2 separate regions of the Homo sapiens genome follow, and region 1 is linked to region 2. Evidence: fine-mapped expression QTL. A gene starts in region 2. The other region holds a variant in brackets. All regions are shown on one strand. Distances are between the middles of the regions. Region 1 holds the start of APMAP (adipocyte plasma membrane associated protein). Region 2 holds the start of CST7 (cystatin F).

Region 1 (5,373 bases), 44 kb before region 2:
GTTGAAACAGCATGGGACTGGGAAAAAGCACTGGACTAGAAGTAGGGTTTGCTTCTGGTTTGAGCTGCGAGGCATACTGTGGGCTCCCTGCCAGCATCATGCGCTTCTTCTTCCATGCTGGCAGAGCCTGCTTTTGTTGAGATAAATGCCCTCCACGTGGGCCAGTGTTCCGATGGAAGTGAGCCTCATCCCCAGTGCCAGGGTTGGGTGTGGGTTTTGGTTGGTCTCACTCAGCGCTTCTCAACCAAGGGCTGTTTTGTCCTCCAGGGGCTATCTGTCAATGTCTGGCAACATTTTTTATCATCACGACTAGGTGGGATGCTACTGCCATCTAGTGGGGGAAGCCCAGGGATGCTGCTGAAACACCAGCGCACAGGAGAGGCCCCCCTCCGCCTCCTAACAGAATTATCTGGCCCAAAATATCAGTGGTGCTGAGAAACCTGATCAAATTAATCATAGTGGTCCCATTCCTCTGCCAACAACTGGCATCAGCACGATGAGAAACAAAGTCGGTCTGGTTGGAAGGTGGGGTGGGAGAACTGATAACTGAAACAAATACAACAAGCAAAGCGTGCTTCACCGTGACTTGAAAACAGAAAAACTGTACTGAACCCGTGCTATGCAGCACAAATGATCTAGCTCAGACCACTGTAACACCAACTACCTACGTGCTTCATGATAAGCCCACGAGCTGACCTCCTGATAACTCCGAATGGACTTACATGTCCCAGAGCTAAGGCCACGGTTCCTCCAGTGACTCCCGTTGTTAACGGATTCTGACCAACCCTGGGCAAGACTATCGATGGACTAACTCCAGCCCCCAAACCCCACAAGGAGTCTCCCATGACTCCCCCATTTTGAGGAACCTCACCGGTCCTCTGGTGCATTTCTTTGCTGCAGCAAGTTCAGTAAACCCAACTTACTGCCATTATTTTTCTTCTGAATGTGTCCCTGGGTGTTTGCAGTGCGTGGGCTTTAACACTGGGCATGGAACACAAATAGCTCCAATGCAGTGAGTTCAATGTTATGGCTGGGACATGTTTAAAGTGCCTTGAAGACAAAGAGGAAGATGTTCTGCTTGGGAAACTGGGAGAAGAATTTTCAGCAAGGATACTTGAAGTGGGTCCTGAATGATAAAAATAATTGGCCAAGTGGAGGTGAAGGAGAGTGTATCACAGGAAGAAGGAACCTCAAGGACAAAGGCAGCCAGGCATGAGATTAGACATGTTAAGCCATCCTGAATGTCTGAAATGGGGGGTGGGGAGCAAGAGGGATAGTCCAGACAGGCAGGAAGGCGTGAGATCATACAGTACTTTGTTAACACTATCCCTGATTTAATAGCTGTATTGGCTATTCTCAATGACACAGAATGAAGTAAAATGTTGTCGAGGCCTGAATTATTACCTGGGATCTCTGGAGAACTGGATTTGCACAGCTCTCCACTTCCCTCAAGCTGGTTCTTCCGCTCTTTGAATGAATAAATAAAAAGCATTCACATGGAATTCTAGTGCCATCTAGCATTTAAAAAGGTAAAAGCCTCCAAGAGGAAATTATTTCTTAACACTGCATTTTGAACATGGCTTTTCCAGAGATAATTCCTCGTGCCACTGGTAACGGGCTTTGATTTCTTCTGCCTGTCACTTCCTCCAGATTCGATTCCTCTTTGAATCTCAAATGCTCTCACAAGATTCAGCTCTTCCCTTTTGAAGCAATTATTACGTTTGATAATTTTACGTCTATTTTATGATGATGATCTGATTAAAGTCATCTTTCCCACTAGTTTAATTTCTATAAGGAGGGGCCTTGTCTGTGATTTGCCCACCATCGTCTCCCAGCACCTGGGAACATTTCTGGTTTCCTGCAATACTGTTGAAAGAACAATGCCTCTCTATGCTTTCTTAAACTTTGTTAGTGATAATTTCTACTTCTACCTGGACTTTACTTAAGGGTAATCCTTAATAAACTTTATCAAAACTTAATAAACTTTATCAAAACTTAATAAACTTTATCAAATGTCTGTTGTAATCGTCACAAAAAGATTTAATACTCAACATCTGGCCTTAACCAGAGGGAAACATTTTCTAGCCCAAGTTTTCCCCTTAACCGGCTGAGTCGGGGAAGGATGTAATTTTCAGGCAGAGGTGACTTCGTTCCAAGGGTGTGAATGCATTATTTTTGACGCTGCCTGTAAGAGCAGGGTCGCTGACACTGAATAAACAGCGCTATCCTCTCCAACGATAAAAGTGGCCAACATCTCGTGCTAGCAATTCCCAAGTGCGTCATGAGCATCCCCGTCCTCAGAAACGTGAGACGAAGGCGGCATGCGCAGGCACTGGGCTAGACGAGCCCGAGGTTGAACCACTCGCGTTCTGGGCCCCGGAGTCCGAGACAGGCGGGGACCCCGGC[A/G]GCTCCCGGTGCTATCTCTGAGCGGGTTCCGAGCCCCACTTCCGGGCGGTCAGAATTAGCCTCAGAGCGCCGAGCAACGACGCGCCGGGGACCTCCCGCCCATGAGGCCGGAAGGGGCGGGGAGAACGCTGCGGAATGGTCCCTGGGCGCAACGTCATTTCCGCGTACGGGGGAGGGCGGGCCTGGAGTCTGAGCCGGCGCCGCTCAGTGTGAGGTGGTTTCTGCGGGTGAGGCTGGCGCCCGTACCATGAGCGAGGCGGACGGGCTGCGACAGCGCCGGCCCCTGCGGCCGCAGGTCGTCACAGACGATGATGGCCAGGCCCCGGAGGCTAAGGACGGCAGGTAGGGCGGACTCCCAGACTGGGCGCTGGAGCCGGGCCGCTAGGAGTGGAGGGCGACCCTCTTGGACAGCGGCGACGGCAGTAACAGTAACCTGGGGATGCGGTGCCGAGCGCGTTGTCAGAGTCCTCTCGTTTCATCCCCAAGAAAAACTCATTTTTCCGAGGAAGCAGGCTCCGACAAGGCGGATGTACCTGCCAGGTCTTTCAGGTTCGGGTGCACCCTGCGCCCAGTCGCCGCGTTGTCCTCGGCTCTCCGGACCCGAGACCGCCTCGCGCCGCTCCTTTGCCTTCCCTCCCTCACTCCTGCCCCACCCTGCATAGCGGTTGCTTCCTCGCCTTTCCCTCGCTCCCCTCGCGCTGTCCTTCCTTTGGCTTAAATGATCCCCCTGAGCACAGCTACTTGGCCGGGGCCCTGCGTGTTCCTGGTTCCCCGCTCGCAATTTCCCGAAGGGAGGAGGTCCCACGAGATGCTGGGGTCCTGCCTCGTTATCCGGCGAAGAGATGGCTTCTACACTTGCTCTTCTGCACCTGCCCCCCTCACGCTGCGTGACCAGTCCTCACCGCGGTTCTTGGAAAGAGTGGAGAACAGTAGTGACATTGTAGGCAATTTTTGTGAGAATTCAGCCTGGCAGTTTTTCCTGATAGGGATGGAGAAACATAGGAAACTGTAGTTGTTGACACCTAAGAAATATCAGGTTTTGCCCTTTGCCTCCTCTCCCATCTTTCAGAATATAAGAATGCTGTGTTTTGTTAGCTAAAAACTGAATCATGATTCGTAAGCATAGATTTCAATATAAGATACTTAAAATTCACTTTTCAATTCTGTGTCCTGAATTTCATAACTTTTAAGTTTCAGGGAGAATCAAGAGGCCCCATAGACCAAGCTTGAAGTTGTGGGACTGATTGACTTATATTTGATAGAAATACTGGAAATATTTGTTCATCAGTAGTGTGCCAAGAGGTGGTGGGGTACATATGAATGAGAGGCAGTTTTTGCCCCTGTAGACTGAGTTTATTGACTGATGATAAGAGGAACACATTTGAAGGAGAGCGATGGCAGGAAGGAGCATTTAGGCTCTAGAGAGGCAATTTAGAGAGAAGACTTTGCGGTGATAGTTGACTCCTTGGGCCAGTGAAAAGATCGGGAAGATGCTCCCATATATCCTGACCAACCATCCTGCGTTGCCCTGGACTGGGGTTTCCAAGGATGTAGAACTTTCAGTGCTAAACCTGGGCAAACTGGGACAATCTGATCACCCTACTTACTGTGAATATTGTGAATTAATCATCTGTTGATGATTGAGGAGCCATTTAGAATGGACATGCAAGAATTGGCAACACTTTCCTACAGAAATCTTGAAAACAAGGCATTTTTACCTGAGAAATGGAAGAGCAGTGGCCTGAGTTTGTCATTAGGTGCAGTGTGTTGAAAACCAGGGCCTACAGCCCCTGAGGGCACCGGTTAGGTAGTCCCAACTCTCAAGTTGGCTGGCTCACACTTCTGGCCCCAGGGCAAGCAGGCAGACTTAATTGTTTTTTTCAGGTTCTCTGTGGGGATTTCTTCCTTAATGAGTAAGTAAATCTGATTCTAAAGTCATCTTTTACTGCCTGATCTTTTCCAGTGTGCCTTTTACATTTATGTTTACTTATTTCCTTGACTTCCCTGTCCATGAACATTGTTCCTGTTTCCCTGTGTTTGTCCTTCTTGTTTGTTTATCCCTTTTCTGTATATCTGTAATGATCTCTTTCAAAGTGAGGTCTTGTCACCACCCTTCCTTTCCGCAATTATTATTGTAACATGGTAGCTGTTTTTCTTATTTTTCTTCTGCATTTCTCCTATATTTTTCATTTATTTTGTGGTCATTTCTAGTAGTTCATGTAATAGTATTCTTGATTACCTTAAAAGTCGAGGGTTCAACATAAGCCAGGAAAGCCTGTGTATAGTGGGCGAAGTAAAGGAATCTAAATTCAGAAGTAAAAACACGAAACTATTAGAATAAACTTTAGCACTTTAGATGTGCTAAATAGAATAAAGGAAGCCTTGAAAGACATATTACTAAACTGACAGAACTAAGACATAGATTTTAGCAGTGGTAGGGACCCCTAGTAATACGTTGGGTGGTCTCCCAACTCTTGGCACAAAAGGTGGGTGTTTGCTTTGTTTTGCTGATGAGATCATTGAGGTCTATGTGTGTGAGGTGGTTTATATGAAGTTACAGAGAATAGAGTCAAAAGAGAAATGAAAATGAATGAAGAAGGATAGAACTGGCAGCTGGACAATGACTGAGAAGTGTATTTTTAAAATTATGCTTTGGAAATAAGACTTTATGCCAAAGCTCTTGAATTACTGTATTTGAAATATAATGGAGAATTTGGTTGGTAAATTCTTTTATTCAGTGTGGAACATAGATGAGCTAAGTACTTTAACATACCGGTGCAAGCTTATAATTATTATTTGACATTGATTTCCCGAAATGCTTTAGAAACTTAATTGTACTCTGTGGAACTATTCCTTTCTGTTTGAAACACAGTTCTATCTAGGAAGAGAACTGTTTAATGTCCATATGTGACTGTTTAGGGATGCAGAATAAATACATTGAGGATTTAATATGTTTCAATACATTAA
Region 2 (5,373 bases):
TGGGGGCTGTCACCAGCACAGTGGCAGAAGGGCCTGCACTAGACAGAGCAGGGGGCTGAGGCTGGCGGAGAGCACCCCATGCCCCATGTGCCTCCATGCCTGTGCCTTCCCCGAGCCACCTCTGTTCAGCCTCCCCAGGGCCGGAGACGGGGTGCAGTTATCTTCCCATTTCATGGATGGTAGGACTGAGGCTGAGGGCCCGCTCTGTGTGTGTGAACGTGGGCTCTGGAGCTTCTCTCTGGGGTTTGGTGGCTGACAGCAGGTCTGCTGAGAATGGAGGGAAAGGCTTGGTGCAGCATTACATACCAGCGAGGGGCCGGGAACACCACCCAGGAAAATGACGTTGCCAGCTGCCCAGCACATCGGCTCCCACGCCACCCTGTTATAGTCCCTAGCCTGCTCCGTGAGATGAGCAGAGCTCTGAAACCCCTCAGCAGTCAGTAGGTTTAATTAGATCCCAGGACACGCTAGGACAGCTGGCTCCATGTCCCCTCCAGGAGAGCCTTTTCTGAGGTGTGAGAACGAGCCACTTCTCTGGAGTGAACTTGCCTCTCTTCCCTGCTTCCCCCTTGGACCTTGGAGACACGAAGGGGCAGGGCACAGAATGGCAGCAGGCAGGCAGCACTGCATCAGGACAGGGCCAGGAGGAGAGGCCCCTGTGAGGCTGGGAAGCAGGTGGAGGGCTCCTTGCGTGAGCTAAGAAGGCTCCCAAGCTGGGAGGCAGGGCCGGGTATGCTGTCCCCAGCCTTCTGCCAGCCATGGGTCAGCTCCATGTTCGCTGAGCACTACCCAGAGCTGGTGGCGGTGGCATGTTCCCATCAGTGAGAGCAGAAGCTGCCCCCGGCCCCTCCTCCAGCCTGCCGTGTCCCCTTGGCTGCTCAGTCGCAGCGTCCGCCCTAGGCCAGGCCTGGGAGCTCGACACAGTGTCCCCCAGCATCACTGAGTCCTCAGTATCCTGACTCACCAGGAGGAGGTGAGAACCCTCCAAGAACCCCTTGGGTGCTCTGGAGCCATCCTCTTGTCAGTGGTCCTGCTGCACAGCCCCCACCTGGGCCCCTTTGGCCAGGCTCCAGCCCCCTTCTGTCCCTGTCTGCTGGGTGGGGGTCATATGACTTGAGCGGGTCACCTCAGCCCTCTGGTGCCAGCTTCCTGGTTGGTTAAATGAGGTGGGGGCCTCCCAAGTCCCCATCAGTATCCTGGTCTGATTCCTGTGCCAGGGAGGCCATGGCCCAGTTCCCTTTGGGGGAGAGCAGGTTGTCCCTGGCTGTGTGACTTGGGCAAATCACCTAGCCTGGCTGTGTCTCAGTTTCCCAGTGCACAGGCAGTGGCTCTTTCCTCCCTGTCCCCCCTCCCCCTGAGTGCTGACCCTCAGGGAGTGGATTTCAGGAAGGGTGAAAGAGTCTGATCGTTAGGGTCCCTGGAGCCAAGTCACAGGACAACAGCCAGCAGGAAGGAATGACAAGCCATCAGATAGAAGCGGCTAACCACAGGCATGTGGCTGCCCTGTCGCCTCCGTCCCGCAGAGGAGCTGCGGGAGACCTGCCTTACTTAGACCTTTCTCAGACCTCTGTGAAGAGCCAGAGAATAGAAGATGCTTCCCTTGCCCCTAGCCTTCTGGGGCAGCCCCCAAACCCTTCATCCCTGTAGCCTGCTACCCCCAAAGGTAGCTGCAGCCAGATGGAGCCCCTTGCCCCTCTCACCACTCCCAGCACCTCTCACCACCGCATGGTCCTGTGGGGGCTCCAAGCTAGGAAAGTGCCCTGGGGAAGACCCAAGGCACCAGTGGCCAATCTCAGGGAGAGACCCCCGGGGAGCGGACAGGGGAGAACGCCACTTACCTGGGGAAGGGCCCCCAGTGGTGCTCAAGACCAGGCAGCAGAAGGCCAGCAGAGTTCCAGCCGCTCGCATGGCTGCCCGGGTAGGGACAGTGCGGGGCAGTTGGGGGTGGCCGTGCAGTGCCTTCTCAGGCAGCATGGGGCAGTTGGAGGCAGTGGTTGGTGCCCGTGCCGAGCCTTCTTGGGTAGATGGCGCAGGGCAGGTGGGGGCAGTGGTCTGTGCCCGTGCCAATCCTTCTCAGGCAGCACGGGCCAGTGCCGGGCAATGGTTTGTGCCTGTGCTGAGCCTTCTTGGGCAGCATGGAACAGTGGGCTGTCCCAGCCCAGGGGCAGGTGCCAGGGCCACAGCATGGAACCCCACCCTGCAAACCACTGTGGGATGGGGCAGGGGCGGGGCTAGGGGGCTGCCTGCGTGGTGCTGGGGAGGGGAGTGTTTTGCTGCTGAATCATTTTGGCCAGAAGCTCTTCACCTTCAGATCTATCAGCCACAAAGCAACCGCTTCCTTTATAAAAGTTTCCGAGCAGCCGTCATTTGCTGGGGGAGGAGGAAGAGACATGAGACCCATGAGCAAATCCTGATGCAATGTTCTACCCCTGAGCCACACACGAAAGAGATGTTGCATGAAAAACATTAGCAGGAATTTTCAAAAGCAAAATCACTTGATTTTCCTTTTTCTTTTAATTACTTAAGTTCTGGGGTACATGTGCAGAACATGCAGGTTTGTTACATAGGTATACACGTGCCATGGTGGTTTGCTGCACCCATCAACCCATCATCTACATTAGGTATTTCTCCAAATGCTATCCCTCCCCTGGCCCCGGATCCCCAGATAGTCCTTGGTGTGTGATGTTCCCCTCCCTGTGTCCATGTGTTCTCATTGTTCAACTCCCACCTATGAATGAGAACATGCGGTGTTTGGTTTTCTGTTCTTGTGTTAGTTTGCTGAGAATGATGGTTTCCAGCTTCATCCATGTCCCTGCAAAGGACATGAACTCATCTTTTTTATGGCTGCATAGTATTCCATGGTGTATATGTGCCACATTTTCTTTATCCAGTCTACCATTGATGGGCATTTGGGTTGGTTCCAAGTCTTTGCTATTGTGACTAGTGCTGCAGTAAACATACGTGTGCATGTGTCTTTATAGTAGAATGATTTTTGAGTATATACCCAGTAATGAAATTGCTGGGTCAAATGGTATTTCTGGTTCTAGATCCTTGAGGAATCACCACACTGTCTTCCACAATGGTTGAACTAATTTACACTCCCACCAACAGTGTAAAAGCGTTCCTATTTCTCCACATCCTCTCCAGCATCTGTTGCTTCCTGACTTTTTAACGATCACCATTCTAACTGGCATGAGATGGTACCTCATTGTGGTTTTGATTTGCATTTCTCTAATGACCAGTGATGATGAGCGTTTTTTCATATGTTTCTTGGCTGCATAAATGTCTTCTTTTTAGTGTCTGTTCATATCCTTCACCCAATTTTTGATGGGGTTGTTTTTTTCTTGTCAATTGTTTAAGTTCCTTGTAGATTCTCGACATTAGCTCTTTGTCAAATGGATATATTGCAAAAATTTTCTCCCATTCTGTAGGTTGCCTGTTCACTCTGATGACAGTTTCTTTTGCTGTGTGGAAGTTCATTAGTTTAATTAGGTCCCATTTATCAATTTTGGCTTTTGTTGCTATTCCTTTTGGTGTTTTAGTCATGAAGTCTTTGCCCATGCCTATGTCCTGAATGGTACTGCCTAGGTTTTCTTCTAGGGTTTTTATGGTTTTAGGTCTTAAGTCCTTAATCCATGTTGAGTTAATTTTTGTATAAGGTGTAAGGAAGGGGTCCAGTTTCAGTTTTCTGCAAATGGCTAGCCAGTTTTCCCAACACCATTTATTAAATAGGGAATCCTTTCCCCATTGGTTGTTTTAGTCAGGTTTGTCAAAGATCAGGTGGTTGTTGATGTGTGGTGTTATTTCTGGGCTTCTGTTCTGTTCCATTGGTCTATATATCTGTTTTGGTACCAGTACCATGCTGTTTTGGTTACTGTAGGCTTGTAGTATGGTTTGAAGTCAGATAGCATGATGCCTCCAGCTTTGTTCTTTTTGCTTAGGATTGTCTTGGCTATGCAGGCTCTTTTTTGGTTCCCTATGAACTTTAAAGTAGTTTTTTCCAATTCTGTGAAGAAAGTCAATGATAGCTTGATGGGGGATATCACTGAATCTATAAATTACTTTGGGCAGTATGGCCATTTTCACAACATTGATTCTTCCTATCCATGAGCATGGAATGTTTTTCCATTTATTTGTATCCTCTCTTATTTCCTTGAACAGTGGTTTGTAGTTCTCCTTGAAGAGGTCCTTCACATCCCTTGTAAGTTGTATTCCTAGGTATTTTATTCTCTTTGTAGCAATTGTGAATGGGAGTTCACTTATAATTTCACTCTCTGTTTGTCTATTATTGGTGTATAGGAATGTTTGTGATTTTTGCACATTGATTTTGTATCCTGAGACTTTGCTGAAGTTGCTTATCAGCTTGTGGAGATTTTGGGCTGAGATGATGGGGTTTTCTAAATATACAGTCATGTCATCTGCAAACAGAGACAATTTGACTCCCTCTTTTCCTATTTGAATACTCTTTATTTCCTTCTCCTGCCTAATTGCCCTGGCCAGAACTTCCAACACTATGTTGAATAGGAGTGGTGAGAGAGGGCATCCTAGTCTTGTGCCAGTTTTCAAAGGGAATGCTTCAAGTTTTTGTCCATTCAGTATGATATTGGCTGTGGGTTTGTCATAAATAGCTCTTATTATTTTAAGATACAGTTCATCAAAACCTACTTTATTCAGAGTTTTTAGCATGAAGGGGTGTTGAATTTTGTTGAAGGCCTTTTCTGCATCTATTAAGATAATCATGTGGTTTTTCTCATTGGTTCTGTTTATATGCTGGATTACGTTTATTGATTTGCATATGTTGAACCAGCCTTGCATTCCAGGTATGAAGCTGACTTGATCATGGTGGATAAGTTTTGATGTGCTGCTGGATTCAGTTTGCCATATTTTATTGAGGATTTTCACATTGATGGGACATCAGGGATATTGGCCTGAAATTTTCTTTTTGTTGTGTTTCTGCCAGGTTTTGGTATTAGGATGATGCTGGCCTCATAAAATGAGTTAGGGAGGATTCCCTCTTTTTCTCTTGTTTGGAATAGTTTCAGAAGGAATGGTAGCAGCGCCTCTTTGTACCTCTGGTAGAATTCAGCTGTGAATCCATCTGGTCCTGGACTTTTTTTTGGTTGGTAGGCTATTAATTACTGCCTCAATTTCAGAACTTGTTATTGATCGATTCAGGGATTCGACTTCTTCCTGGTTTAGACTTGGGAGGGTGTGTGTGTCCAGGAATTTACCCATTTCTTCTAGATTTTCTAGTTTATTAGTTTAGAGGCATTTACAGTATTCTCTGATGGTAGTTTGTATTTCTATGGGATCACTGGTGATATCCCCTTTATCATTTTTTATTGCATCTATTTGATTCTTCTCTCTTTTCTT

The links. PIP is the estimated chance that this variant, and not a neighbour inherited with it, causes the effect.
Region 1: its variant is fine-mapped to the expression of CST7 in whole blood (INTERVAL, PIP above 0.99).

The regions. Positions count from the first base shown.
Region 1 is chr20:24,989,969-24,995,341 of GRCh38, reverse strand. It overlaps APMAP (adipocyte plasma membrane associated protein), which reads left to right and starts at 2,591. Exons shown (of 9, transcript NM_020531.3): 1 at 2,591-2,748. The coding sequence starts at 2,654. RefSeq lists enhancers at 2,037-2,537, 2,450-2,689, 2,820-2,899, 2,920-2,979, 2,538-3,038 and 1 more. The variant A/G (reference allele first, on the strand shown) is at 2,407.
Region 2 is chr20:24,946,041-24,951,413 of GRCh38, reverse strand. It overlaps CST7 (cystatin F), which reads right to left and starts at 2,145. Exons shown (of 4, transcript NM_003650.4): 1 at 1,839-2,145. The coding sequence starts at 1,908. RefSeq lists an enhancer at 2,430-2,479.